Linked DNA regions of Homo sapiens. The protein of the gene in region 2 purifies or fractionates together with the protein of the main gene of each other region. This does not show direct contact. Each region holds a gene or a part of one and is shown on either strand. Other genes may lie near its edges. The genes, in order: PARN, TEAD4, AMOTL1 and DLG3.

Evidence for each region.
Region 1: the proteins of TEAD4 (region 2) and PARN purify together in Homo sapiens (affinity purification with mass spectrometry; 3 studies listed by BioGRID and IntAct, with this or other methods). This does not show direct contact.
Region 3: the proteins of TEAD4 (region 2) and AMOTL1 purify together in Homo sapiens (affinity purification with mass spectrometry; 2 studies listed by BioGRID and IntAct, with this or other methods). This does not show direct contact.
Region 4: the proteins of TEAD4 (region 2) and DLG3 purify together in Homo sapiens (affinity purification with mass spectrometry; 3 studies listed by BioGRID and IntAct, with this or other methods). This does not show direct contact.

Annotation. Positions count from the first base shown.
Region 1 is NC_000016.10:14,606,249-14,613,271, reverse strand, and holds part of PARN (poly(A)-specific ribonuclease PARN), read left to right. Parts: intron 1-2,462; coding exon 2,463-2,628; intron 2,629-4,148; coding exon 4,149-4,214; intron 4,215-4,952; coding exon 4,953-4,991; intron 4,992-6,745; coding exon 6,746-6,788; intron 6,789-7,023. UniProt on the Homo sapiens protein: 3'-exoribonuclease that has a preference for poly(A) tails of mRNAs, thereby efficiently degrading poly(A) tails.
Region 2 is NC_000012.12:3,032,383-3,039,405, reverse strand, and holds part of TEAD4 (transcriptional enhancer factor TEF-3), read right to left. Parts: intron 1,439-7,023; coding exon 1,298-1,438; intron 1-1,297. UniProt on the Homo sapiens protein: Transcription factor which plays a key role in the Hippo signaling pathway, a pathway involved in organ size control and tumor suppression by restricting proliferation and promoting apoptosis.
Region 3 is NC_000011.10:94,763,671-94,771,365, forward strand, and holds the start of AMOTL1 (angiomotin-like protein 1), read left to right. Parts: upstream 1-4,685; 5' UTR 4,686-4,841; coding exon 4,842-4,890; intron 4,891-7,695. UniProt on the Homo sapiens protein: Inhibits the Wnt/beta-catenin signaling pathway, probably by recruiting CTNNB1 to recycling endosomes and hence preventing its translocation to the nucleus.
Region 4 is NC_000023.11:70,475,834-70,482,856, reverse strand, and holds part of DLG3 (disks large homolog 3), read right to left. Parts: exon of another isoform or gene 5,229-7,023; coding exon of another isoform or gene 5,225-5,228; intron 3,708-5,224; coding exon 3,593-3,707; intron 1-3,592. UniProt on the Homo sapiens protein: Required for learning most likely through its role in synaptic plasticity following NMDA receptor signaling.

The DNA.
Region 1 (7,023 bases), on a different chromosome or scaffold from region 2:
AATGGTGCAATCTTGACTCACCGCAACCTCTGCCTCCCAGGTTCAAGCGATTCTCCTGCCTCAGCCTCCAGAGTAGCTGGGATTACAGGCATGTGCCACCACGCCCGGCTAATTTTGTATTTTTAGTAGAGACAGGGTTTCTCCATGTTGGTCAGGCTGGTCTTGAACTCACGACCTCAGGTGATCTGCCCGCCTTGGCCTCCCAAAGTTCTGGGATTACAGGCGTGAGCCACCGCGCCCCGTCCCCATGGATTTTAATACCACCCGTGTCCCAATGATAACTAAATGTATATCTCAACACCTTTCTCTTGAGCTATAGGCTTGTAACTGCAGCTTTTAATTTGTGTATTCCCTTAGATGATTTAACATGTCCGTGGTAGGGCGCGGTGGCTCACGCCTGTAATCTCAGCACTTTTAGAGGCTGAGATGGGCAGATGACCTGAGGTCAGGAGTTCAAGATCAGCCTGGCCAACATGTTGAAACCTTGTCTCTACTAAAATACAAAAATTAGCTGGGTATGGTGGCGGGCGCCTGTAATCCCAGCAACTTGGGAGGCTGAGGCGGGAGAATTGCCTGAACCCGAGAGGTGGCGGTTGCAGTGAGCCGAGATCGTGCCATTGCACTCCAGCCTGGGTGACAGAGCAAGACTTCGTTCTAAAAAGAAAAAAAAGAAAAAAAAATAGTATGTCCAAAAGGTAGCTTTTGATTTTCACTCCTTGGACCCCGATACCTATTTTTCCCCTCATTGTCTTCACATCAGTTAGTGGCCCTACCATCTTCCCAATCGCTTGAACCAAATAGCAAGGTGTTTTTTTTATTTTTATTTTTATTTTTTTTTGAGACAGTGTCACACCGTCGCCAGGCTGAAGTGCGGTGGCACGATCTCGGCTCACTGTAACCTCTGCCTCCTGTGTTCAAGTGATTCTCCTGCCTTAGCCTCCCAAGTAGCTGGGACTACAGGCACACACCACCATGCCCAGCTAATTTTTGTATTTTTAGTAGAGACGGGGTTTCACCATGTTGGCCAGGCTGGTCTCCATCTTTTGAACTTGTGATCCGCCCGCCTCGGCCTCTCAAAGTGGTTGGATTATAGGCGTGAGCCACCATGCCCGGCCGCAAGGTGTTACTCTTGATTTTGCCTTTCCCTTTATCCTTCATCTCCAGGATATCAGTAAGTGTTACGTCTTATGTCTAGAAAATCACTGTCTCCTTCTACCCTGCCATCTCTACACCAGGGTTACAAACAAGAGCCCACTGCTGGCTCCTTGTTTTGTAAATAAGATTTGTTGGACTACAGCTATGCCCGTACATGTACATTTTGTGTATGGCTGCTTTTGTGCCACAACAGCAGGGTTGAGTATTGCGACAGAGACCCCCATTGCCCACAAGCCTAAAACATTTGCCATCGAGCCCTTTAAGAAAGAGTTTGCTGGCCGTGCGCGGTGGCCGTGGCTCCCGCCTGTAATCCCAGCACTTTGGAAGGCTGAGGCAGGCGGTGAGGTCTGGAGTTCGAAACCAGCCTGGCCAACATAGCGAAACCCTGTCTCTACCGAAAATACAAAAATTAGCCTGGTGTGATGGTGCACGCTTGTAATTCCAGCTACTCGGGAGGCTGAGACAGAAGAATTGCTTGAACCTGGGAGGCAGAGGTTGCAGTGAGCTCATATTGTGCCATTGCATGCCAGCCTGGGTGACAGAGTAAGACTGTCTCACAACAAAACAAAACAAAGAAAAAGTTTGCTGACCTCTGATCTGAGCTCTTGTCTCTTGCCTGGACAATTGCTCCTGACTTGTTTCCTAACTTCACTCTCAGAGTAGTCATCATGGCCTTTGAAACATTATGCAGGTAAGGTAATTATCTTGCTTAAAATCTTCTAATGTTGTCCAGCCACTGTTAGAATAATGTACATTTCTTACACTGGCCTGTGAGGGCCTGCAGAATCTTGCTCCATACTCTCTCCAATGTGATGCTGTACCATTCCATTTTTGCTCATGACATCTGGCCACACCAGCTCCTTGCTGCTCCTGGAACCGTCCAAGCCATTTCCATGTTCTGGGTATTAATACTTGTTTCCCCTACCCGAAGGACTCTTCCCCTAGCTCCTTTCGTATCCGACTTATTCTCATCCTTTGGGTTTTCCCTGACTTTCCTGATTTTCTTGTCAGAAGTAGTTCCCTTCACTACAGAGCAGGATGCATCAGCTTGTCACTGTTCATTCCCCAGTGCCTAATATAATGCTTTGGCACAGCATAAGTGCCAGATAAATATTTCTTGAAAGAAGACTGAATGAATGGATGAATGATAAACACATTTCAAAATCATTTGCCTTTCTGTTCATTTTTTGAGATGTAGTTAAATATGGTAAATCTTTCCTGAGTAATTTAGACTCTTTGGTTTGTTAAACAAATTTTATGTTAGACAGTTACTTCTGCTAATGCATTCTTTTTAAAATCGTGTTTAGGAATTCCATATTTAAATCAGGAAGAAGAAAGACAGTTAAGAGAGCAGTATGATGAAAAACGTTCACAGGCGAATGGTGCAGGAGCTCTGTCCTATGTATCTCCTAACACTTCAAAATGTCCTGTCACGATTCCTGAGGATCAAAAGAAGTTTATTGACCAAGTGGTGTAAGTTCCTAAATTAAAACTAAGCGTGCATTGTGTGCTATATATTGGGGATGACAGGCATCTATATCTCAAACCTGTGCTTTACAAACATAGTACACACACGGGTGTGATGTTGTGAATGGCAGGATATAATTGTGGCATATTAAAAAAAAAATTTTTTTTTTTTTTTTTTTGAGACAGTCTTGCTCTTTTGCCCAGGCTGGAGTGCATTGGTGCAATCCTGGCTTACTGCAACCTCTGCCTCCTAGGTTCAAGCAATTCTTGTGCCTCAGCCTCCAGAGTAGCTGGGATTATAGGCGTGCACCACCACACCCGCCTAATTTTTATATTTTTAGTAGAGACGAGGTTTTGCCATGTTGGCCACGCTGGTCTCGAACTCCTGGCCTCAAGTGATCTGCCCGCCTCAGCCTCTCAAAGTGTTGAGATTACAGGCATGAGCCAGCATGCCTAGCCGGCATATTCAAATTAGTGTAACAGCAACAAATTGTAAATAGAGTTCCATGTATTGTACTTGGACTTGCTACATGTCACTAGGCAAGAGATTTCAGTACGTGGTCAGACCTGCGTGGATTTTTTATTTTATTTTATTTTTTTTAATAGAGACGGATCTCACTATGTTTCCCAGGCTGGTGTCAAACTCCTGAGCTCAAGGGATCTTCCTGCCTCAGCCTCCCAGAGCGCTGGGATTACAGGCGTGAGCCATTGTCCAGCCCCTTTTCTTGTTTTTTAAATGCTAATCAGCTGACTTCTAAAACTTGCATGGACTGAATACCTGACAGCCACTGTCCAATGTCCTTGAAGGCAGAGGAGTGGATCAGGCTTATCCAGCCTGTAGCATGTCCATGTTCTCTTTGCTTGCAGTAAAGGTGCCGACAAGCAGATGTGATTTTGGACAAGTGTCTGGTCTTGCTCAGCTTAGTTGTTGGTGTAACCATTTTACTGGGAAAGTCAAAAATTAAATCACTTGTATTGACGAGTCCTTGAGAAGTTGTCACTAATAAATAGCAGCAGTAACCCTCTTCCCCCCAAAATACGCCAAATAAAGCTTTTTTATTTTATGTTATTTATTTTTTGAGACAGGGTCTCGTTCTGTTGCCAAGGCTGGAGTGCAGTGATGCGATCACAGCTCACTGCAGCCTCAACTTCCTGGGCTCAGGTGATCCTCCCACCTCCGCTTCTGGAGTAGCTGGGACCACAGTTACACTGCACCACTCCCAGCTAATTTTTAAGATTTATTTTTTGTAGTGAGGGGCTCTCAGTATATTGCCCAGGCTGGTCGCGAACTCCTGGGCTCAAGTGATCCACCCAACGTCGACCTCCCAAAGTGCTGGGATTCTATGCCTAGGTCAAAATAAAGCATTTTTAAAAAAGTCTTTGAACTAAAATTTCTAGGGTAATTTGGTAGAATTACATTGTCACATGTTCTTATAGTTAGACTGTTTTTGGTTGTGATTATTTTCTTGGTTGATGACTTCATTCCTTAAAGGTACTGATGGTTATGGTCTATTCTTATTCCTCAGAGAGAAAATAGAGGATTTATTACAAAGTGAAGAAAACAAGAACTTGGATTTAGAGCCATGTACCGGGTTAGTTGTCCTGAACATTTCTGCATGTCCTTTTTTTGGAAAGGTAGATGGTTTGTGGCATTTGATGCATCTAGTCTTTTAAAAACAGCTTTATAAAGGGTCTTTTTATTATTGCTATGTTCTCAAGAATTAAACACTAACTTTAGCGTTACACAGTGGGGATGACTGTGTATACTGAGACACTGAATGAATGCTTTGTCCTGTACTTGGAGCGGAGAAAACTGTTGTGCAACCTTGACTTTCAGTTATGCCCAAGAGTGGCATAATTAATTTGGCCTTGAGGCGCGCTTAATACGTGAAGGCTTCAGAAGAAAGAATTCACTTTCAGGCTACTTCCACCCTTTTAATTTCTCTCTGTATTCAGAGAACATTAGCATTTCAAAGAGTCAGTAACGTGATTGTCTTTTTTTCCTTTTACTTTGTGAGGAGTTTCACAAAAGTATTTCAATGCATCTGTCTACTTTAAGCTCTCTTTATGCAGCTGCAGGAAGCAATATTTTGATTAGACGAGAACTTCTACCTCTTCAGTAAAAGCAGCATAATATTAAAGAAAATTTTAGAAGACAAGTGATGAGGAAATCCCCCCACCTCAAAAAACCTGCGTATTTTTGTTTGCAAATTACCTATCAGTTCTAATGAAGTCTCTTTTTAAAGCGAAATCCTTCTCAACAAATGCTTGATCAGTTTGGATTTACTTCTAATGAGCCAAAATCAATACCTTTTCTTTTGTTTTTATAGGTTCCAAAGAAAACTAATTTATCAGACTTTGAGCTGGAAGTAAGTATTTATATTGTATGCAGCAGCTCTGTGGGGGACCCAGGATTTAAAGACTAAATATAATCTCTTAGTTCTCATTTCCTTTTTGAAATTCTGCGGTTCTCAGTGATTTGACTACATGAAGTTCCCCCTACTTTCTTAAGTTGAATACTCACTTAATTTTCTTTTGTTATTGTTTTTTAACAGATGCTTTAAGGCTTCTTAAAATAATTATCACTTTGGTGCATCTGTTAAGCTATGGATTGGTAGTGTTTTTGTCCTTTGGGGTATACAATAAATATTTGGTTTTCAGACCTAGGAAATACTCAGATGAATGCTTTTGGTAAAGCAAGAGTTCTTAACTTAGGGTGAGACTATGGATGGGTTTCAGGAGGTCTGTGAATCCCCTGAAATAACATCCAGACTTTTGTGTGTGTATTTTTCCAAGGATGTTTCCCTTGGTTTCCTTGTGTTTGCAGGTGGGTCTTCAACTCAGAAATTGAACATTGACATAGACAGGTGGACATTTCCATTTGACTTTGGGGACCTTGTTCTTCTGTTGGAATCTACCAGTGACATGTATACTGGGAATATACTTTGAACACAACAGGAAAGGGCTGTTTAGTTTGCCCACACTCCTTTCCTGTCATGTCGTCCTTGCAGCCTACTCCACCTGCATTCCAGATCCCTCTCCTCCTTGGCTGATGCAAGCTGTTAATACCATGCAAAACTACAGCAGAGCTGGCCATCTAAAACCTCCTCTTTATATGCCCTGTGCAATCTAAAAAGACTCAGGCCGGGCGCGGTGGCTCACTCCTGTAATCCTGGTACTTTGGGAGGCCGAGGTGGGCAGATCACCTGAGGTCAGGAGTTCAAGACCAGCCTGGCCAACATGGTGAAACCCCGTCTCTACTACAAATACAAAATTTAGCCGGACATGGTGGCACATGCCTGTAATCCCAGCTACTTGGGAGGCAAAGGCAGGAGCATCTCTTGAACCCTGGAGGCAGAGGTGCAGTGAGCCAAGATTGCGGCTTGGCACTCCAGCCTGAGTGGCAGAGTGAGACTCCATCTCAAAAAAATAAATAAATAAATAAAATAAAAAGACTTTCACAATTTCAGTTAGGAAACATTTTTATATTTGGAAGCAAGATTTGACTCTGTGGTAATGAGTTGACTGTATTTTGAGATGTAGGACATTTTAGAAAGTGCCTAAGTCCTGGTCAGGCGCAGTGGCTCACACCTGTAATCCCAATACTTTGGGAGGCCCAGGCGGGAGGATCACGAGGTCAGGACATCGAGACCATCCTGGCTAACACGGTGAAACCCCGTTTCTACTAAAAATACAAAAAATTAGCTGGGTGTGGTGGCAGGTGCCTATAGTCCCAGCTACTTGGGAAGCTGAGGCAGGAGAATGGCGTGAACCAGGGAGGTGGAGCTTGCAGTGAGCCGAGATCGCGCCACTGCCCTCCAGCCTGGGCGACAGAGAGAGACTCTTGTCTCAAAAAAAAAAAAAAAAATAGAAAATACCTAAGTCCTAAAAAAAATTAATTTGAAGTCAAATCCACGTTTATGTGTTTAAGAGCAAGGGTAAGGAAACATTTAGCAGCTGAAACGTTATAAAATAAATGTGCTGTAAAGTCTCCATTGTAGTGATAATTATTTTGTAGTTAATAAAACTTACTTAATTAGTAGCTGGATAGTTGCTTATAAAATACTTTGGGATTTAGCTGTCATTGACTCATCTACTGATACTATGTTTTTCTTTTCTTTAGGTATCCGAAAGGCATTCATGTTGAGACTTTAGAAACTGAAAAGGTAACCCCAAGAATTATCTAGGGCTAACATTAAACACATCCATTGTTACACTGTTAGGGGTTTCTTTTTTTTTTCTTTTTTTTTTTCCCTCAGGGTCTTTCTCTGATTACCCAGGCTGGAGTGCAGTGGTTAGTCACGGCTCACTGCAGCCTTGACTTCCTGGGCTCAGGTGATCCTCCTACATCAGCCTCCCAAGCTGGGACTACAGGCTCGTGCCACCATGCTTGGCTAATTT
Region 2 (7,023 bases):
GTCAATTTCCTGGTTGTCCACTTTACACTCTAGTTATGCAAGATATGGCCAGGGCAAGAGCTGGGTAAAGCGCACATGGGATTATGAGCCCAAGTGGATCCACCATTATCTCAAAAGTTTTACAAGTTTAATTAGAAATAAATAATTTGAGGAACTTTTTAAAAACCACTAATGCCTGGACTCTACCCTAGAGACTGAGGGGTGATGAATGGGTTTCAGGCACTGGTGTGTTTCCAAAGCTCCCAGGAGACTGCAAGGTGCAGCCAGGCGGAGAAGCACTGTGTGGAGTAATGTCTCCTCCCTGGTGCTGGCCGGGCATCTGGCTGCATTTGGCATGAGGAAGGCTATCAATAACTGACAGACTGTGAGAGTAGGACTTCATTAATTCAGACCAATCTGGGGAAGGGGTGAGGAGAGGGACGAAGACTGGCCTGCACGGTGAGGAGGTTTAACAAGTGTGTGGGCGGCACAGGGCCCCGGACTCTCAGAGTCCACAGGTGCTTTGGGTTGGAGGCCTTCAGTCCCAGCTCCTTGTCACTGCCACTACGCAGCGGGCCCAGAACACAGGGTGCTGCAGGAGACCGTGTCACGGACAGTGAAGATAACTTGGCCCTTGTTTAGGGCCAAAATACAGAGGATTTTATCACAACCCCCCAGACACGCACCGGAAAGCAGGGTGCCTGGGTGGGGATTCACCTGCGCTTATGCTCCTCACCACTGCCCTGCACTGCCCTTGGCCGGGGGTTTAGCAGAGTGGGAGAAACCATAAAAGGCAGGCCTGAATTTTCTGTAACTTCCATTAGAGCAGGGTCTCCAGGGTACCCATAAGCAGAAAATCAGGGAAGGAACAGTTTTAGGCATTCATGGAGTTCAAAGTGAGCAGGGGACAGAGATCTTAGCCCTGCTTCTGCACTAATGAGCTGTGTGACCATGTGCGGGCGATTGGTGGGAGGCCTCCGCTCTCTCTGGGCCTCCACTGTGAAGCCAGAGGGCTGGACTAGGTAGATGCCCAGGGCTCTGCCTGTGCTGCGGCTCTGCTCTTGGAGAGGACCGGGGGTGCCTGCAAGGACGTGCTTGGAAGATCCTGAAAGGGCAGCAATGGCTCTGGTTAGCTGGGCAGGACACTGGTGCCAAGGGGAGTGTGGGAGGCACACAGCACTGACAGCAGACAGGGAAGGCAACAAGGGATTATCCTGGCTCCCTAACGGAGGGCATTCCTCCTGAAAGCAAATGGAAGCCATGCCCAGCAAACACAGACCACTGCCACCGGCCCTCACCCGCCAGGGTGGCCTCCTACCTCAACTTTCTCCACCACCTGCTTGCCGAAAGAGCAGACCTTCGTGGAGCAGGTGATGATCATGTTCTCGGGGCTCTCATACTGGCTGGAGACCCCATAGAAGGAGCTGCCTTCATCCTCGATGTTGGTGTTGAGGTCTGCCTGGAGGGAGACAGTGGGAAGGCGAGGGAGTGTCAGCAGGTGCCATGTCAGACGGGAGCATCAAGGAGACCTCAGGGTCCCGGTCCCGGCTCTAGGGCTGGGAAGAAATCAGACTGAGGGTAGACAGTAGGACGCCAGAAAGCTTCCACATTCCTCTACATCTCTGCCTGGTACAAAATCAGGTCGTGTTGCCTAAATCATGGGAAAAGAGGACACTGGGACCCACACAGTTTCAGGCCACTGCTGCCTGCCCAGATATTAACACACCCAGCAGGTGGGAGCCCCAGATTCCATCTTTAAGATTTCAAGTTTCATAGTCTAAGACTTTGTTCTTGTTAAACTGCAAAGGTTTGAATCTCTACCAGTCAGCTCTATTTTAGTTTGAATGCGTCTATCAGAATTATTCCAGAGTCAATTTTGATAGTGCAGGAAGCATGAGAACAGAAAACCAGGGCAAGAGACCGGCAGTGGGGAGGGTGGAAGGGGTGAATGCTGCTCCTGTCTCATCCTCTTGTCTCGCCAGAGACCTGATCGATGCTCCCTCAGAAACGGCTCTGGGGCTGGCCTCTTCCCCCTCTAGGCACTGCTGGGTCCCGTCACCTTGGATCTTTTGACATCTCTGCTTCAGCCTCCAGAGCAATCTCCCCAGCACCAGCTGTCCCTCCCTTTGGTTCATTCTCTTAACTGCCCCGGGAATCTCTTCAGAAGTCAAGTCACTTCACCGTCTCATTGAGCCATTTAGCCACAAGGGACAGGAGTCTTGGTCCCCGGCCTGGCTCACAAGGCCCTTCACAGGCCCAGACACTGGTCCTCTAGGTCAGCTTCTCACCTTGCCTCAGACAGGCTGCTCTTCCTTCCCCTGATGAAAACAGAGCCCAGGGGGCCTCCTGCTGGATGTGGGGCTGATCTGAAACTTCCCTTCTAGAAAAGGCGGAGTAAGACTCTGTGCTGATCTCACACCCAAAACCACGGCCTCGGTTTTATCCATGAGGGGTCCTGACTGTTAGCCTTGCCCAACACCATCCAACTAGTAAGTGAAAGACCCCAGGTCTTCAGCCTCCAACCCCAATACTTGTCCCAAACCAGCAGAGTGCCACAGCGAAGAAAGGAAGGCACCAGATGAGACAATTTGGTGCTTTGGGGACTCTGAGGCAGGAATTGTATTCCTGAAGCCCTACGCCTTAGGGGTCCCCATGCCCAGAACTCCAGCCCCACATCAAATCACCCCATCTGAGCCAGGGGTGCTAAGAGAACAAGTCAAGACTCAGAAACAACGCACAGGCACATTACAAAGGCTTATTCTCAGGGGAGGCCGCTCCTCCCACCCACACCCCGGTCTGAAATCACTGCAAGCTGTGCCCAGAGCGCAGCCCTACGAATGCAGTAAAGCGTCAGGCCTTGGTCAAGGTTCTGACACCAAGGACTCTTCTGTGCAAAGATAAGGGGATCCCTAGAACCCCAGGAAGGTTTTGGTCAGATTCAGAGCCAGGCACCAAGCAATTCTACTACTGGCCATGAGGGGACACTCAATCGTTATTTTTCTCTCCTTTGGAGAAGTTTTCCCAGAGCAGGACCTTTCTCTAGACTGGCGGTGGGTGTTGATTGTCTATAGCACAATAGAAACATTATGTAGCCACAAAAAAACGCTGAGAAGGACCTGCATTTATTATCATGGATGACTACAAACACACTGAGTGGGAAAGCAGGCTACGGAGCAGAATGAGGGTGGATTACGTTTATGATGAGGAAAAAAAGGCTGTTTTCATGCTGAAACAGAATGGCATATGGTTCAGTGCACCTGCCTCGGCTTTGATGAGGCCTTTAGGGAAAAAAAGCATTCGTGTCAATGCTCAGCCTCTGAAACAGACAGCAGCATTTATCCTAAACACCCTCCACTACCACCCCTGAGCTGGCCTCAGTCTCCCCACTCTGTCTCCATCTGTGATGCTGGGAGGGAGGGGATGACACATTGTAGGCAGGGTGCCCAGGATGGCATGGCAGAGGTGGCTGAGGCCTCTGCCGGACTAGATTTAACTGTGGCTGTGACTGGCCGAAGGTCTTACAGGCAAATATAAGGTGAATGGGACCAGAACCCAGGCTTTCGGGCTCCTGTTTTCTTCTTCTTCTTCTTTTTTTTTTTTTTTGTTAAAGACAGAATCTTGTTCTGTCACTCAGGCTGGAGTACAGTGGTATGATCACGGCTCACTGCAGCCTCGAACTCCTGGATTCAAGCAGTCTTCCCACCTCAGCCTCCTGAGTAGCCAGGATTATAGGCATGTGCCACCACACCTGGCTAATTTTTAAATTTTTTGTAGAGGCAGGGTCTCGCTGTTTCCTAGGCTGGTCTCAAACTCTTGACCTCAAGTGATCCTCTCACCTTGGCCTCCCAAAGTGTTGGGATTGCAGGTGTGAACCACTGCACCTGGCCTGTCTCCTATTTTCTCGAAGTCACCTGCTCCTCCTAGGAGACTGACTTTGTCAGACTGTTCCTAAAAAGGGCCTGGGGGACAGTTTGTGTGCTCAGGACATATTCTGTAGCTGGAAGCACAGGGCAAAAATGTGAACAATGCCTGAAATGCCGCTGGCAGGAAGCCCAGCTGCCTGGGAAGGATGCACTGGACATGGTGGGGAACACCAAGAGGTGAGGCCAGGCATCAATGGTGGTGACCCTCAGATTTTAACCGCGCATGGTCCCTCTGATCAATGCCACATTCATGTGCCATCTACGACACATCCTGATTCTTTGAAATCAACTCACTTTTATTCCTTAATTCCATTCTAAGCAATAAATCCATGAAATCAAGGATTCTATTCTTTCTAATATATATGAAAATAACTATATAACTATTTTTTTAATTTTATTTTTTGAGACGGAATCTCGCTCTGTCGCCTGGGCTGGAGTGTGGTGGTGCAATCTCAGCTCACTGCAACCTTCGCCTGCCGGGTTCAAGTGATTCTTCTGCCTCAGCCTCCTGAGTAGCTGAGATTACAGGTGCCCACCACCACGCTCGGCTAGTTTTTGTATTTTTTTTTTTTAGTAGAGGTGGGGTTTCACCATATCGGCCAGGCTGGTCACGAACTCCTGGCCTCAAGTGATCCACCTGCCTCGGCCTCCCAAAGTGTTGGGATTATAGGCGTGAGCCACCGCGTCTGGCCTATAACTATTTTCCATATTTTCAAATAAAGTTATTTTAAAACACAGGGATAGGGCTTCGCCATGTTGCCCAGGCTGGTCTCGAACTCCTGGGCTCAAGTGATCCTCCTGCCTCAGCTTCCCAAAGTGGGGGGATTACAAGAATGAGCCACTGAGCCTGGGCAACTACTTAACTATTTAAAAAAATGCATATTCACGTGCCATCTTAGAAGAATCCAGTGTGCCAAGCTGGGAAGGACTGGCATCCACACCTCCCAGCTCTTCCAGACACACAGAGGCAGCGGCTGCCCCCAGCCCCCAGGAGCAATTGGCAGATCCCCCTCTATTACCCTGCTTGTCATAATCTGTCCAGATGTCCTTGCCCCCTTCCAGATACGATGCTCCCTGGAGGCAAGAACTAAGCTCTCCCAGGGCCTTAGTAGGGTGGGCCTTCAATCAAGGTTGCAGGCGGCTGTTCACCCTCTCACCTCCGGGTGGCACCAGTGGGAAGAGCAAGGTCCCTCAGGCGCAAGCAGGAACCTACCCTGTCCTGCTCACCCTGAGAGTTCTGCGCCCCAGCTCCACCCCCATCTCAGATACACTCTTCTGTCATCAGCTCCCACTCCCTGGCTCTTCCCATCGCTCAGGTGCCCATTTGTCCAGCCCAGGCCAGCAGTGCTAGAGGCAGGGGGGCCCAGAGAGGTTGAGACATTGTTTCTGCTCTCAGGGAATTTATAATCGGGAGAACAAATAGAATGCAAGTGCTAGGGTTGAGCAATGGGTCAGGGGGAGAAAGAGAGATCCCACAATCAGCCCCAGAACTCATGTTCACACTGCATAAACCCGGAACACACCAGCCGGCGACACGGACGAACCGCCCCAGAGCACCTCGACTCGTCCTCAGTGCCTGGATCCTTCTAATTACAGCCTCACCCCTTCTCCTGCAGCTATACTCCTTCCTGACATTTCCTGTCCACCCTCATATCCCCCCACACTGAGCAACCACCCAAAACAAGCTACGCTTCTTGGCCTAAGAAAAAATGAGAGCTGCCCCGGTCCCCTGCCCTGTGAGTGCCCCCTTGCAACCCTCCCTCCGCCCTATTCATAGCTGTGCGTGCGGGTGGGCAGCTGTGCCTGGAACAGGTGTGGGGGATCGGGTGACTGACAGATGAGCAGAGACAGCCGCAGCCCGGGTGTGGGGGCCTGGAGGGGCTCAGATTCATTGTCATGTGCTGGTATGTGCCTGGGAGAAATGTCAGGGACTGAAAGGGAAGAGCAGGCTGAGATGGGAGGAAGGCCTGGGGTACTCTGCTGCCTCCACGGTGCAGCCCGGCTCTGCCTGGCATTTCCAATGTGCAGAGCGGCGTTAATGGCCACCAAAGGCCCCCTCTCACCGGCCCCAGAGACAGGTGGCCTCTGCTGGACTTGCGGGGCTCTGGGGGAGGAAGGGAGCTTCATCGCATCAGTCCCTCGCTCCAGGCCCCGTGGCGCTCAGCAGATAGGGCTGAGGCTGTGCACAGCCCTAGCAGCCTCAGCCCTTCAGGCTGGCAGATGCCACTTCTAGCTGGAAATGTGTCCCAGCAGTCCGAGAGTCTATGAATGACCACCACAGCGCCCTCAGTAAGAGCAGTAACTCAGGGGACAGGCAGGGAGGCTGGACTGGAGACGGACAAGTCCTCCTCCCACTCCAAGGGGGTTCTGATTGCCTCTCCAGCACACACATTCAGGGCCTGGGAGCCAGGACTGAGAAAACAGCCAGGCAGGAAAAGAAAGGCTCCGGGAGAGGCGACACCGTTTCCTTGCCTGAGCAGTTTTCCTTCCTAACTGTGTGTGGCCAAGTTCACACCAGCTGATGGAGGGGGAAGGCGGGACCAGGCCAGGGAGCAGAAGACAGGAGCTTCCCGATGCGGGGGGAGCCGGGGCAGCCTGTGAGGACCCACGATTGACGCAAAGTCTCATTGTCAGCAAACACGAATATGTACCTTTCCCCGTCACATATGTGTCTTCCTCTGGTGCCTCTGCCCGCCCCACACATGCGGAGGAGGGAGCAGATGACCGCCAAGGTGCCCTGGCCTCCGGCGCTCCCTCATCTCTGATTTCACCTGCCCAGGCCGCTGGCACTCAGAGGGCTCAGGCAAGGGGTGGGGCAAGGGCAGGCCACAGCCCCCCACTCAGTACCAGCCGGCCACATACACGGGGTCTTCAGCGACACAGCCCCTGGCAGGTCCCCAAGATCAAACTGCTGACTATTCACACAAAGAAGCAGAGGCACAGAGAAGCCAATATTTGCCCAGGACACAGTTCTCAAGTGGTAGAACTGAGACTCTGCCCCAGCTGGGGCCAACTGCTGCCCACCGTGCCCTGCCATGACACATCAGAAGGGCCTTGCTGGGGGGCACACCACAGCCCCCTGTCCAGCGGCTCCTGTCCCAGGACCCCGAGACTCGCGCTG
Region 3 (7,695 bases), on a different chromosome or scaffold from region 2:
AGCTATAGAAAAGAAAATGTTATTAAGAAAATCACAAGGCAGAGATGATCATCATAAAAGTCTTCATCCTTGTCATCTTCACATTGAGTAGGCTGAGGAGGAGGAAGAAGGGGGTGGGTTGGGCTTGCTGGTTCAGGGTGGCAGAGGTGGAGGAAGATCTGTGTGTAAGTTGACCTGCACTGTTCAAACCTGTGTTGTGCAAGGGTCTGCTGTATTGCCATTGTAAAACAGAGAACTGAAAGAAAAGGTTGGAAAAAAACTTCTCACCTGGTGATTATATAGGGGTTTATTAACTCTGGGGTTGATGTGACCATTTGATGTTTATAAAAAGAAGAAATTAAAAGAAAAGGTGTTTAGAAGCATGGCAGCGTATGCTTTCCTTCCTTGTGTCCATGCCTTTGCTCGAAATATCCTCCTCTCAGCACCTGGATTTCTTGGAACTTGCCCGTTTTTTTCCTGTGCATCATTCCTCTATGCTCCCATAATGCTTTGTGTCTAATCTCTAGTGTGTTCACCATCATTTTTTATCTTTAGCATACTACACTCTGATGTAGTAAATACTTCTGAAAGTGAATTGCAGGAGCACTGACTAACCCCAGTGAGCCAGCTGGAAACCTCAATGTGCTAGGAGTCATTTCGAGTGGATTCTAGGACTGCACCTTTAGAGATTCAGAAATTTGGAGGTGGAACATGAGGAGTTTAAATTTTTACATGCTTTGGTTTCATAAGTTACACTTCAGAAAGTGCTTGAAATTGAACTTAAAAAATATCCTTACTTGTTCTAGGAGCAAAACAAGCATTTTGATCAAAGCAGCCTGGGTGCATCAAATCATTGGTTTGTTCATTCAACAGTCATTAATGGAGAACTACCAGTTGTAGCGATGGTCCCAGGTGAGGCTGTGTGTAGTAGCTGTTCCTTACGTAGTCATGTTCATCCACTCTTCTTTTGCTGTTTGGCTTCTCTGTCTTTGCAAGCCCAAGCCCATTCTTAGGGCCCATTCAGTGAAAGTATTAGCTGGTAAAGACTTTAAATGTTTGTCAAGAAGGGGTGCTGAGAAAAGTGAGAGGAGAAAGACATTTGCATTTTAATAGAGTATTTAAATTCCTTGGTATTTCAAATTACTGGAGAAGAGGAGGGTTTCTAACTTTTACTGAATTCCTAGATGTGCCCAGCACTTGACCTGTATTATCTCATTTAACCCTTGCAATAAGTTTATGAGGCAAATGTTATTATTTTATAGAGGAGGAAGCTGAGGCTCTCCGTGTCTAGAAATAGATAGAACATGGACTAGAAGCAGGTCTTACTGTAAAGGCCCTGCTCATTCTCCTCTATCCAGATGCCTCTGTTACTTCAACATTCTTCCCGCCTCTATGCTTGTTGGGAACAGCTTGGTATCACTGGAACATCCTGGTACTCGTCCTGTTTTGAGTGAAAGACTGCTCTCTGGGCTGCCCCAAAGAGCACTAAAATTGGCCCATCATCTTCTTAGCTTTCTTAGGAATGAGTAAATGACAACTTGGGTCACTTTAGAAAGGATGCTGACCTTTAGGATGAGTGCATAGATCTAAAGAAGGCACAGATGTGGACTGGTTCACTACCTTGCTGTTAGTGAAGGTGTGTTCAATTTTTATTGTAAACATACTTTGTTTCCATTAGACACAAACCAGACATCAGAATCTCCAGCCAAGTGTGCTTACTGAAAGATGTTATTGATAACTTCTTGCTAGTGAAATTCAGAGTCTTTTTTTGCAGGCCTTAGTTCCTGAACAATAGATTCAGGAACTAAGTTAAGGCCTGAAAAGATTGTTTTCTGCATTTGATGTAGAGCTTATTCACAGATAAGGAAATTAAGGCACAGGAGGGAAACATTGGTCTCCAGCAGTGTTTTCTGCCTGTGCTTCCATGTATCTGATTACTGGGTATTAATTTGAGGAGTCTAGGCTAGGTCCACCTGATTGAATCAGAAGATCCTTGAACCCACAAGCTGTGCCTAGCACTTCATTGCAGGTCTAAGAATCTGTAGCATTTGATAGAAGGACCCACTTCTTAAAACTTCCTCTGGCTTCCATGCCTTTACCTTTTCCCAGCTCTTCTACTTCTCCAGATTCTTCCTCTTCTCCCTCCTTCTTTCCCTGTTTTCCAGTTGTGGACATTCTGTTAATGAACTGATCTTCAAAGCTTCATCTCTCCTTTTCTCTACACCTCTGTCCTCCACTTCTCACCCAGTCCCTTGTTCCTTGTTTCCTCTTGCCCAGAGGATAGTAAGTCACTCAGCATCTTTCTCAAACCGTTTCCTCTTCTCAACTGTGCTTCATCTGTCATTGGTCTAATGATCCATTCTTCTAAGACTGCAAGATCTATTCTTCCTATGACTGGGCTCAAAGCCTAGGTTAACTTGATTACTTTGTCCTTTTCCCCAGGATAAACAACGAGTCAATGAGAAGAATAAAATCTTGCTTCAAAGATTTGATACCTTTCTTTATGACATCTGGTATCTCCAAAGATATGGTATCTCTCATTTCCTTTTTATCACCTCTGTCAACCTCACCTATCATTGCTTCCTGCAACTATCCTAGATAGTCTCTTGAAATAATAATAGCAAATGTATATTGAATACTACATGCATTGTGCTGAGTATTTTACATTTGTTATTTTATTCAGTCTTCACAACCACTCTGTGAGATGCTATTTTCTTCATCTTGCCAAAAAGGATACTGAGGTTTAGAGAAGTTAGGCAACTTGCTCAGCGTCACACAGATACTGAATGGTGGAGCTGCAACTCAGCTCATGCCTGTTTTGTTCTAAACTTGATGGTTGTAACTTGGAAATTTTGCTGCTTCCTAGACTATAGGATGGTATCTAGGAGTGGGCAATTAGTAAAGATTAGTTTCCTTTCTTCTTTTTCTATCCATCACTTCTTCCCCAATTTGTATTAAATTCGCGCAAATGTTAGGTGAATCAGTGGTCCCTTCACTGTCCATAAGATAACCACTTCAGCTCCTAATTTGCGATTCAGGGTTCACAATGTGTAATACAAGGCACATTGAGGCAGAGGTTGTTTCTATACCTGGCTTTGCTACTAAACTTGTTCTGTAACATTGGACAAGTCATTCAACAGCTATGCCTGAGCTTCTTCATCCGGCAAGTGAAAGGTTTAGTTGACACTTTCTTAGATTCTTTCCAGGCCTACATTTTTGTGACGTTGTTATTCTGCCTTCCCTTGTTTTCTCCTCGTTTCTGGTAAAAACGCTTTCCTCTATGCCTTCTTCCCAAGCACCCAGACCTTGTCATCTCCCTCTTGGCTTTTGCCTCTGCTTGCCCAGTGCTGCCTTTTCCTCTTTCTGCTGTGTCTGAACTCCACCACCCTCCCAGGCTTTTCCTTCTGTGTAGTCAGTGCCTCTCTCCGCCCTTCCCAGGCATCTGCAGTACTTGGATCTCCTGCTTTGTTGCTTGCCTGTTTTCTGTTCACACATCTTGTCTTCTTAGACAGATAACAGATCCTTGAAGGGCTGGTCAGCTGCTCTAAGTTTCTTTTGTGTGCTAAGTTTCTTTTGTGTGTACCAGGGTAGATGACTTTAAATGGAGTAGGCATTTCATAAATAATTGTTAAATGATTACATTTGGGCTTTATCTTGAGAGCAGAGTTTACTCAGTAGGAGGGCCCATCAGGGGAATCAGAATCAGGACATGCAACCCACCAGAACTGATGAGAGGTAAAACTGCTGGCAGTCTAGTTAGGGAACTGCCACAATCCAGGGAGGAGTCCCTGAAGGCCGGACCTAGATAGCAGGTAAACAGAGGCAGGGAGCACCAGATAAGAGAGGCTTGGTGTGCGCTAACTCTCCCACTAACATCCTGGGCAGCAACTGTACAGTTACCTAGCTTTCTCTTCTCCAAGCAGTAGAGCTGCCCGGAAAAAGCCAGGCAGAAGTGCTATGGGGCAGGCTCGGGCACCCCAGATTAGGGCTCCAGAGAGCCGCCAGTATAAACCAATATAATGAGGTGGATGAGTAGTTCTCAGCACAGCCTGATTTTAAGAGGTGGGGCAACATTTTCCCAGAGTCGCTTACTTTCTTTACCTCTACTCAGGCAGATAACAGCCTGGGGATTTATGGCCAGAGGATGTACGGTTCTGCGAACACATTTAATATCCGAGGCTGTCAGGTCTGTTTTGGCCCTTCTGTTTGTCAACGGAGCACATAGTAGCAGCTTATCGCCCAATCTCAAGTGCGTGATGGAAGCACTGGGGCCTGGGGAATGCTGAGAAAAGTGTGGCCACTTTCTACCTGGAAATTCCACTTAAGAAGAAAAAAAACCAACCTAAGCAAATCTAGACTTTTGGGCAGATCCGGAAACAGAATTTTGGCCGGCATTGGGCTGGTGGGGAAGGAAGACAAAGTGGAGGGAGAACTGGTGAGTCTGAAATTAATCAAAACCCGGCAGGGGACAAAGGAAGGGATGCTGTCGCCCTCCTAAGTCTCAGGGAGACACGTCAGCTTGAGCTCTGGGCAATTTCAGCCTGGCAGTCTCGCGGCCCGGGGAGGGGCGGCGGGTGTCTGCAGACGGGCTCTAGGGCCCAGCGGCCGGGCGCCACGGCGGGGGTGGAGTGTAGGGTTCTAGTGACGAGCCCGGGCGACCCTCCCCGGCCCGCGCGCGGGGAGCGGGGAGCGCGGACGGCGGCGGGAGCGCGCGAGAAGCTCTAGGACCCAGCAGCGGTTGTCGGGTTTGGGGCTGGAGGTGAAGCCCTGTGTGAATGGGGTTGATTGTCCGGCGCCACTTCCCCGCGCTGCCCGGCAGCCGTCTTCCCCAGCCGAGGGACTGAACTAGCCATGATCGCCTCATGTGGAGGGCAAAGTTGCGCCGGGGAACTTGTGAGCCTGCGGTGAAAGGTAACCAGCCCCCACTCGAGGTGCCGGGAGGGCGTCTCCGAGTCTCCCACGCGAAGAACCCAGTCGCCCCGGGCTCCCCGGGCCCCTGCTGCTCACGGAAGGGGGCAGCTTCTGGGGGCCCGGGGCTGAGATCCCAGATTGTTGTTTTTAAGCGGGTTCCCTTGCCCCGCTCCAGGTCCAGTTGCCTGCGGGCCGGGCCTCAGCGTCTTGCCGCCCCGCGACCCACGTTGACTGAAGTTGTGGCCCCGGGGTTTGGGCCCCGGGGTGCTGCGCGCCCGACGCGGGGCTGGCCTTTCCTGAGGGGCGCAGCCATATGGCCAGACACTCCGAGGCGCGCCCGCGCCCGCGCGCGGGTCTCGCGGCGAGGGAGGGGACGGAAGGGGGTGTCCGGTGCAGCTTTCCCCGGCGCGAGACAAAGGCGCGCGCACCGGCCCGCCCGACGGGCTCTGGCGCTGTGGACTGGACCCTTTCTGCCCGCCGGCCAGACCCGGCTCTGGCGGGTGGGGGCGACGAAAGGGTCGCACCCCAGCCCCAGACGCTCGGATCGCGTTAGCTGCTGCTCCTTCTTTGTTCTCTCCCCAGACAAGTTTCTTTGACAAACTGGAGAGTTACATCCAGCTCCCGCTTGCCTGTTAGGGCTGCCTTTACAATAATCTGCTTTCGCGGGGAGAAAATTTAAACTTTCCAAATGGAACTGTTTTTTCTTGGAATGTGACATTTGTGGCAGGAGGGAGAGTGGTACGTTGGCCGATGACAGCCGAGCGGAACGGTGGCCTAGTGCCGGGACAGGGACCGAGCGTGCCCCATAGGCGGCCGGGCTGGAGGACGCGGCGGCAGAGCAGACGAGCCCTGGCGCGCACCTCTAGGGCCTCCGCTACCTGGACTGCGCTCGCGGCGACGTGTCCAAGTTTCCCCCCTCAGAGCCCCAGGCCGAGAATCCCGGGTATCTGCGCAAAGCTCCCGCGCCTCGCCCACCCTACTCTTCCTATCTTTACTGATGACTAGGAAGACTTTCCTTTTCCATTTTTGTTCGAAGATTTTTGCCTTTTTGGCTTCGGTGTTGGTTTCCTGTCTCCGCGTGGCAAATACCTTTTGGCCGGGCTAGCGTGTGGATCACCTGGACTGGGGTTTCAGAGGTGGGCCCTGAGCGTGCGGCCTCCTGAGACGATGCGGTTTGGACCCAACATTTTGTCCCCATGGTCCCTCAGCTCCCTTTCTCTGTGAGGCCTTGGTTTCCCATTTTCTTCTCCTGAGGCATGTTATGAGAACTGAGTTTTTGTACTGCTTATAGAAGGCCTTGGTGGTGGTGGGGTACGTGGTCTCGAGAGCCAGTTGTGATACCTCGAAGATGCTTTCGGCTAACCAAAGCAGTAACGTGCTAACCTGCTCACCATAAACGAATTAAACCAGAATAGAGGGCTATTAATAGCTACAGTTCCAGAAAATTTCCTTCCTTTTCGGGAAGCAAAAAGTCAAGGCTTGAAATATTAAACAATCATGGCTCCCTGCTTCCAAAACTGGCCTATGGGTCACTGCCAAACTGGCTAAGATTTCCCCTGGCTGCATACCACTCCTGGGCCCGGGCAGCTGTGGAAGTCAGACCCAGGTTAACGATTAAGGAGCTCTCTAGATTGCAAGGTCTTAAAGAATCTAGAGCAACTGACATTTACTTCCTAGTAAGGTGCTCTGAGCCTTATAGTGTGTATCTACTTTGAAGGCTCTTTATGAGAATAATGTGGGAACAGTAGTTTAATATACTTTGAACTGTTAGTAAAGGGTGGAAAAGCACTGATTTGACTAGAATGAAGGAAAACACCGATTCGACCAGAATGAAAAGGGTAGGACATAGGTAGAAGGCTTTATACAGGCTCTACTTTTCCTTATGATGGTGGTGGGGGTTGGGGGGAGGGATGAGGATGTTTAGTTCTTGGAGTGCACTTTTGTTTTTCTGTGATGCATTTTTCAAGATAAATAAGGAAACCTTTGTAAACCTGCAGGTGGATAGGAGAGAAGGTGCTGTACCTGTAACGCCCCTTTCCCTCCCCCTTCTTTTTAAAATGCACAGAAGTCTTGGTCTTTCAGGTTCTTTGCAGATGATGGAGGATGTAGCATACTAATTTTCCAAAGGGCATGTGGAGATCAAAGCATTTAAAAATACATCTTTTCACGGAGGCTAATGGAGGATTTTCAGTTTAAATGAGATTTTAAAGTGCTGTCGTTAAGAAAAACACATGAATGCAGAAATGTGAGTGATTTTATGGGAAAGCACTCCGCTGATCAGACTTGAGAGTGTCTGCCCTGGGCCAGTTAGTCTAGAGGCTGTTGTGGGTAGAGCTCAGCTTTTCTGATGTCTACCCCTAAGGAAAAGTGTGGACCCAGGGCCTAGGGAAAAGATGGCTGAACTAATTGAAATGAGCAGTCTGGCTGGTGAGAGTTCTGTTGAAAGGTATAGCCTCTAGGTATCAGTGCTGCATTTCTTCATAGTAATTTGTGAAAATGCTTTGAAAATGATAAAACAAAGACTTTTGAAAAAAATAATTAATGACATGAAATGGGAATTGCTAGTGAAAATTGTAAAAGTTTGATTTTTCAGGCCAATAAATTAAAAAGAAGTAACTTTATAGGACCTGCTAATATTTCTGATATATAAAATTCCCCCAAAGTAACCTTTTCTATTTTCTTTTCTTTTTGGCGGGGTTGGGGGGGGGGTGCGGTGTGTGGCTATCTGCATTTTAAATGCATAAGGAAGCTCAGGTCAGAAAATTCTGCAGTGTTTTGAATAATTTTTCTCCTATTTTTCATTAA
Region 4 (7,023 bases), on a different chromosome or scaffold from region 2:
TCTCTACTAAAAATACAAAAAATCAGCCGGGTGTGGTGGCAGGCGCCTGTAGTCCCAGCTACTCGGGAGGCTGAGGCAGAATGGCGTGAACCCAGGAGGCGGAGCTTGTAGTGAGCCTATATCGCGCCACTGCACTCCACTCCAGCCTGGGCGACAGAGCGAGACTCCGTCAAAAAAAAAAAAAAAAAAAAAAACACCACACATGTATTTTCCCAAACCTGATGAATCCAAAGCACTAGAAAAGGAGCCTGGGAATCTGTATTTTTACTAGCATTCCAGCTGATTCCTATGAGGAAGTTGGGGAAACACTGAAAGAACCACACTTTATAGTCAGAGCAACCAAGTTCAAGTTCCAGTTTTTGAACTTCTTAGCTATCTAACTGGAGTCTCAGTTTTCTCATCTGCAAAATGGGAATCATAATATCTACTCTGTAGGATTATTAAAGGGATATTAAAAGCCATTTAAAGAGAATAACAAAGGTCTTGATGAACAATGTGTTCCCTAAATGTTTGTTCCCCTTTATCTTGAAGACACTGAGGAACTAGTGAAAGCTTTTGAGCAGATCATGTTCAGATTATTGCTTTAGTTTCAACCCCCTCTGCAATACCCAGGCAAATGGTTGCCCAGCCTCTTCTGTAACACCTTGAGTGACTAAAGATCGAATTTACTATATCCGGAAGCAGTCCATTCCATTTTCAGACAGTTTTAATCATTAGCTCTTCCTTCCTTATGTTGAGCAGAGATCTGCCTTGGGTGACAGAACAAATCTAATCCCTTTTCCACATGATAGGGTGAGGCAATTAACTTAGATAAGGAAAGTACATGCCGCTTGTTTGAGGCGCTGAGAGGGCAGTTTTATTTATGCACATGTCCAGCAAGTAGTAGATATGCAGGTCTGTAGTTCAGTAAAGAGATCAGGAATGTCATTTATACGGCAGGATTTGAAGCTGTGAAAATAAATGACATTGCCATTTAGGGGGGCAGAGCTAATGAAAGGTATTAAGGAATGGTAAGCAGGGTAGAAAGAGAGCCTTTAAAGAAGAAAGCAGGTAATTCATGGAAACAAATGTGGTGAAGAGGTCAGAACAATGTCAGAGAACCAGTGAACCAGTCACTAAATTTGAAGACTAAGAAGTCACCCACTGATCCCTGACAGAGAGTCAGGTTTCTGCTCCCCTGGAGCTTTCCAGAGCTGTTCAGAGCCACACTACCACACTGAAAAGCAGATGCACGCTTCCTTTCGGGCTAGTGAAAGAGAAGTGATTTGAAGCAGCAGCAAGTACTCCAACATTTCCCAACCTGGATGTTGACATAGGTTTCTCAAATAAGGCTCCCACGCTCTATCTTTTGGGGAAACACTGCCTAGTACAGTCCTTCCTGGAGATTAATCACAGGAAAGAGCCCCATTTTCCTCTGTTTAAGCCTGCATTTGCCCAACTTACTAAACCACTGATTTTTCACACAATACTTAGTAATATCTTGAGGAGCTAGTGTTTTCTGGCCAATAATTTGGCAAATGCAGTAAGCAAAGGGATACAAGACAATAGTTTAAGGGACTATTGGTATCAAGGGATATTTTCTTCTTTTTAAGAATGGAAGAAGCTTAAATATGTTTACATGCTGAAGAAAAGGAACCAAGTGTAGAGTGAAGGGCCAAAATCAGGAACAAAAGGGAAGAGAGTAAGCCAGGTTCTGATAAAGGGGTTAGCTTAGCAAAGGGCCTCAGCTCAATGCTTTAGCCATAAGACATTAAGTGCCCCTGATTAAATCTAGTGATCACAAATGGTTACTATTTTCCTAACCACATCTACTTTCCTCAGAGGATACAGATAATTTATCTAGAGAAGGTTACGGGCAGATTATATAAACTGATTCACTAGACACAGTCATGGTCTCCACCCTCGCCCCAGAGTTAAGCTAAGTGTATCCCTTTAATTCCCTTGCCTGAGCCAGGGAAGAGTGCTCCATATCGGGAGCCAATGTCCCACTCCCCCTGCCCAGGCAGAGAGAACTCTAACACAGGATAGGCGGAGAGGGGAAATCTAAAAATAAAGCTCTCCAAAGAAACTGTCTTGCCTAAAGAGCAGCTTCCCACGCACACTGGAGTGCCACATCTGCGGGGGCTGGAAGCACGGAACGGAACAATCCTGACCAAGTCATATAACCATTACCTATTTTGGGGGGTCGACAGTGCATTTCTGATTTCACCCATCAGCACCCCAGTATCCAGGCTGCAGACTGGGAGCAAGGGCTTTAGTGACAGAAAACAAAACTTTCCTTTCCGGGGAATTGGAAAAATGACCAGTGACTAGTCCCGCCTTCCTACCATTCTCCCTTCACAGCGGGAGGTAAGCATAGCACATGCTTTCAACACACAAGGGGTGGAGTTGAGGGTTCACATTAGGAAAGATTGTGAAGGGTTCTAGTGGGCTTCAGGCTCAGAGATGGGCTCCTTTAGCTCCACTCCCTGCGGTAGAGTCAGGGACCACCAACTGGGGAAAAAGAAAAGCAAGCACCATGAGAAAAACTGCAATTAGCGTTGACATCCCTTCACTATTGTCCTCTCACACCCCAAGGACAGAGCAGTTGTCACGTTGCCAAGCAACTAGCAAGTGCAACTTCCCAGCCAGGTATCAGAGGCCACTAGAAAAAGTTCAGCCCAAGAGTTTGATATGACCCCACACCTAAGCATTAAACACAATACTGTAGCAACTTCTGGCTCAGGAGAGTAATCCCCACCACCTTTCTCTAAGGGCTTTAACCTTGGAGGATACAATGTACTTGGCACCAGATTTTGGAGTTTTGCCAAGAAGCCAAAGCAGGAAGAAGGAAGCTATCCCTAATTCTATGAGGAGTCCACAGTATTCACTTGGCACTCCAACTCCCCAGGAGATTTGTACTTTGACCTGACAAAGTATTAAGCTATGCCTCAAGGGTCAGAGAAGCTCAACCTTGGAAATATCTTGGAATAGCTTTCAGCAGCAATATACTCCATGCTACCTATCTGTTCCCTCCACCCCCTCCCTCTTCCTAGGGCACATACACTATACATCCCATGATTCATAGATACAGCAGACCAGTGCAGCGGGTGGTGAGGGGGGAATGGAATCACAATAAAACATCCAGAATGCAGCAACCTGTCAGTTCTTTGGTCTCTTAAAAGAGATCCTGTACCAGAACACTGCGATAGTTGCTATGCTCAGATACAAATCCTGATGTCTATTATGCATACATGGAAGGGGATGGGGGGGTGGCAAGTTTCCCCTCAAAGCACAGATTGCAAGCAAAGTACTTTGAACATTTGACTGATATTTGAATGCTGACTAGCAACAATCACCCAACAGTCTTTTACAATTAGAGCAAACTGAAATTTTCCCATACTGAGTCATTCATGAGCTAAAAGGAAGAAGCCAGCTCACAAAAGGGAGGAGACACTGACCATAAAATACACAACCTAAGCATACAGTGAGAAGCGTTATTTTAGAACTGGGAGTACATACTCCCTAGCCCACTAGTTAAATAAGAAGGGCTGGGTTGGCATGGAGCTCTCCTCGTCCAGCACAAGGGCTAGTGCTCTGAAGGGCAACTTACCTGACATACAAGGACCTCTTTTCACTTGTTCGGAGGGACCCAGACCCAGAGCTCATGCTGCTGTTCATCATTTGTTCTCGTAAGTCATGTATCTTCGATTCAAAGCGACTGTATTCTGTCACGGAAACAAGGGAAAAGATGGGAAAAGAATGAACTCAAGGAGCGCCTCTGAGCTTGCATGCCAGCAGCCAAAAAGCCAGAAGGCCCCTTGGCTTAAAAGCAGCCAGAGCCAGCCCACTCAGTCTTTGCTTTGATAAGCAAAGTCCCTCCTCCTAAGCACAGAAAGACAGACTTCCCTTCAACCCCAGACTAACAGAAGGAAAGAATGCACCTGAAAAGGGAGTAGCATTTGGGCAGGTCAAATGCACAAAGCTCTTATCTGCCTCAAAATGTCACTGATCCTTTATAAAAATAACAACTGGAAAGAGGTTCCAGTGCAACCTTTATAAATCTTTAGAGCTGACACTAAGGCCCAAGGAGAGCAGATGGGAAAGGAGACTTTCCCAAAAAGCGGATTGCAGAGAACAGATGGCCCTGAGACGCAGAGCGGAGGGGCTGGAAAGGACCTGAGGTCAATTATATCATTGTTAGGCAAGAAGACAATTTTTTCAGGATGACTTTTTGGCTGGGGTGAAGGGGGGTGATATTGGAACCCAGTACAGAGGTAAAAACAAACAAACCTCACAACCGTAACAACCATATGAGGAGAATTAAAGCTCTCCTGAGTTATTTCCCTTTTAACCAATAGCCTCTTTGGCTTCAGTAGCATACATTAAAACATAAATTCTCCCAAACCGAGAAGTCGGCTGACACCTCTCACCTCCAAAATCATCCAGTCAGTGAGGTCATAAGTCCATCCCTAACCTTATAGCCCATTGAGACCATCACAACAGCTGGAAACAGCCTTATCACTCTGGAAATGTAATACAGGTTTATGCCGAATTTAAGAAAACCTGATACAAGAAAATTAACTCTAGCTGTACAATTATTATAAAAGGCTTTTTATAGGGCTGCTTTGCTGTGACATTCTCCTAGGACATTTAAAATACAATATTCACACTTACCAAACACACAATTACACATTTTCCAGGCCTATAATTGCCGCATAAAATGGGGTATATCTAAGGCCACAGGCCGTGGAAATGCTAGAAAACAGGCACACTTCACTATGACAAGCTGACTTTGAAGCGAGTCAAAATTTATACTAGGGGTTGAAGGTTGGGAAACTGCTTTAAAAAACAAACACACTTCCAGGGGAAAAAATTCCACAAAAGCAATTTCGTGCACCATAGAGGGCTGGCAAGAAGCATCCCCACCTAGTCCGTATGACTCTACAGGAGAAAACAAAACACCTGTTCCAGCACCTGACACTCCCCTTCCCTCTGCAAAGCAACCAGACTGACCTTCAACTGGGTGTAAGGGGAATTGCTAAAGCCTAAAGGGGAAGGAATGGAGTGAGGCAAATAACCTCCTCTCAACAAAGTTTCTTTTGTTCACTGTGATATCAGTTTAACCAACGGGTTAAATTCGTGTGCTCTTTCATTCATCACACGCCGGTGTTATGGTGATTTGTCCTCATTACCTACTCCTGTTCCTGAAATCCTGGAGGAAGCAGTTAAGTCACTGACTCACCCATTAAACGTTGCGGGGGGTGGGGTGGCGGAGGGTAGAGAGACAACAGCTGGACAATGTTCCTGTTCTGAGGGTTACACGGCAAGCCATCAATATCAATGAGGTGCCCCAACCTAAGCCCTGGACTGTCCTAGAGCATAACAGCAGGCCAGTCTACCTCTGGAGACCGCCTGGGTGCTGGCCCCACCCCAGGGCTTGGCCCTCTACACTGGGTGGGGATTGTTTCTCATTTGTTCCTTTCTGGCCCTCCTCTGAGCTCACCGGCTATGGGCAGAACCGTGTGAGACAAAGATTTCTGACCAGGCAGCCCTTTCTTAGGGGAAGATAAGTCAAAGAGAGAAAGAACTATGCATTGAACTGTGAACAAAAAAGTACACCCAATCTATCTTTAAGCCATGTTTTCCCCTTCTTGAAACTTGTTTATATATTCCCTTCTTTGGAATCGACTTGCCCGCTGAACTCCAACTTAGCAGCAGGTCATGGCAGTTGCTTAGTAACTACATTTCTTTAAAAATCCTTTAAAAAACAACCACGAAACCACCATTTCCTCAAAGCTCCTAATCCAAGGCTGATAATTCTGGGCCAGAGGGCCCACTTAAAATAGACTACAGAAAGAGAACAAAGCTATTGCTCTAAGGCATACGCTTTTTGTTTTTACATGTGCTGCTAAAATTTCAAGTTTATTAAATTGTGTTTTATTCACTTTTTTTTCCATTTGGATGATTCCCTTAGAGTTCCAGCTGCCCATCAGTCTCTGGCTTTTATTTGTAGATTTATCTAAAGTCTACTAGGCAGAGCAGCCTTTGAATAAATGATTGTTGGGTAAATGAGGAGCAAATTAGAAAACTGTGTCCAAGTTGACACTTCTATTCTTAAACTAATAAACTTAATGGTTTATTTAACTGATGGCTGCCAGCTTCACTGAGGGCTTAGAAAGGTGGTTAAGAAGCATTCACATTTACTTTTGTTCCCAAGGTTAATTGTTGGGAGCAATTGGGGTTTATTATTTTTAAACACCCTTTTGAGATGTTAACAACCCACAATAGGCGGCTGATTAACAACTTTTTACAACAAAGAAAAATCATTCTAACAAAAAACTGTTTAGAATAGACTTAGATACTACCTCATCTTAAATATTAGAGGTATCATTTTCCCAGGACAAAAGCTTCCCTTAAAAAGCATCTCAATTCTAAGACTTCAGGACTCGCCAAGCTCCCTCCTTCCCTCTGATTTGTCACTAACACAGCCATCGCAGCCAATGCTGGAGGACATCTCCTAGGCCAAAGTCACCGCCTAGGAAGCCCACCTGACCAGCCTCTAACCCAGAGGGCCCACTTCAAAGAAGCAACACTAAAATCTCAAGTCTACTAAACTGCTTTGTTTTTTCCCATTCAGATGAACCCAACTGTTTGTGACCCACAAAGATATCCAGTCATCGCCCTCTTTCCTTTTTCCCAGTTGCTAATCACAGAGAAACAAGTGGGAGGGGGCACAATCAGAAGTCAGTACCGAAGAAGGGTTTTGCCCCAGTCACTGACAAGTTGGGGTGCCTCTAAAAGATCAGGATTTGGCACCCCATCCCAGATACACAGAATCAGAATCTACTGAGCAGGGGCCCAGGAATCTGCATTTTAACAAGCATCAGTGTGATTCTGATAAAGTTTGGAGCTGCTGGTCTTAACTTACAGAATTGGATCCTGCAGTGTCTCTGAAAAGAAAGGTGGGGCCAGAGAGTGGATAAGCTCTCAAAAATAAAACTTGGTAATACAATTGCAAATCCTTCAGGAAAGGAAAGCCCT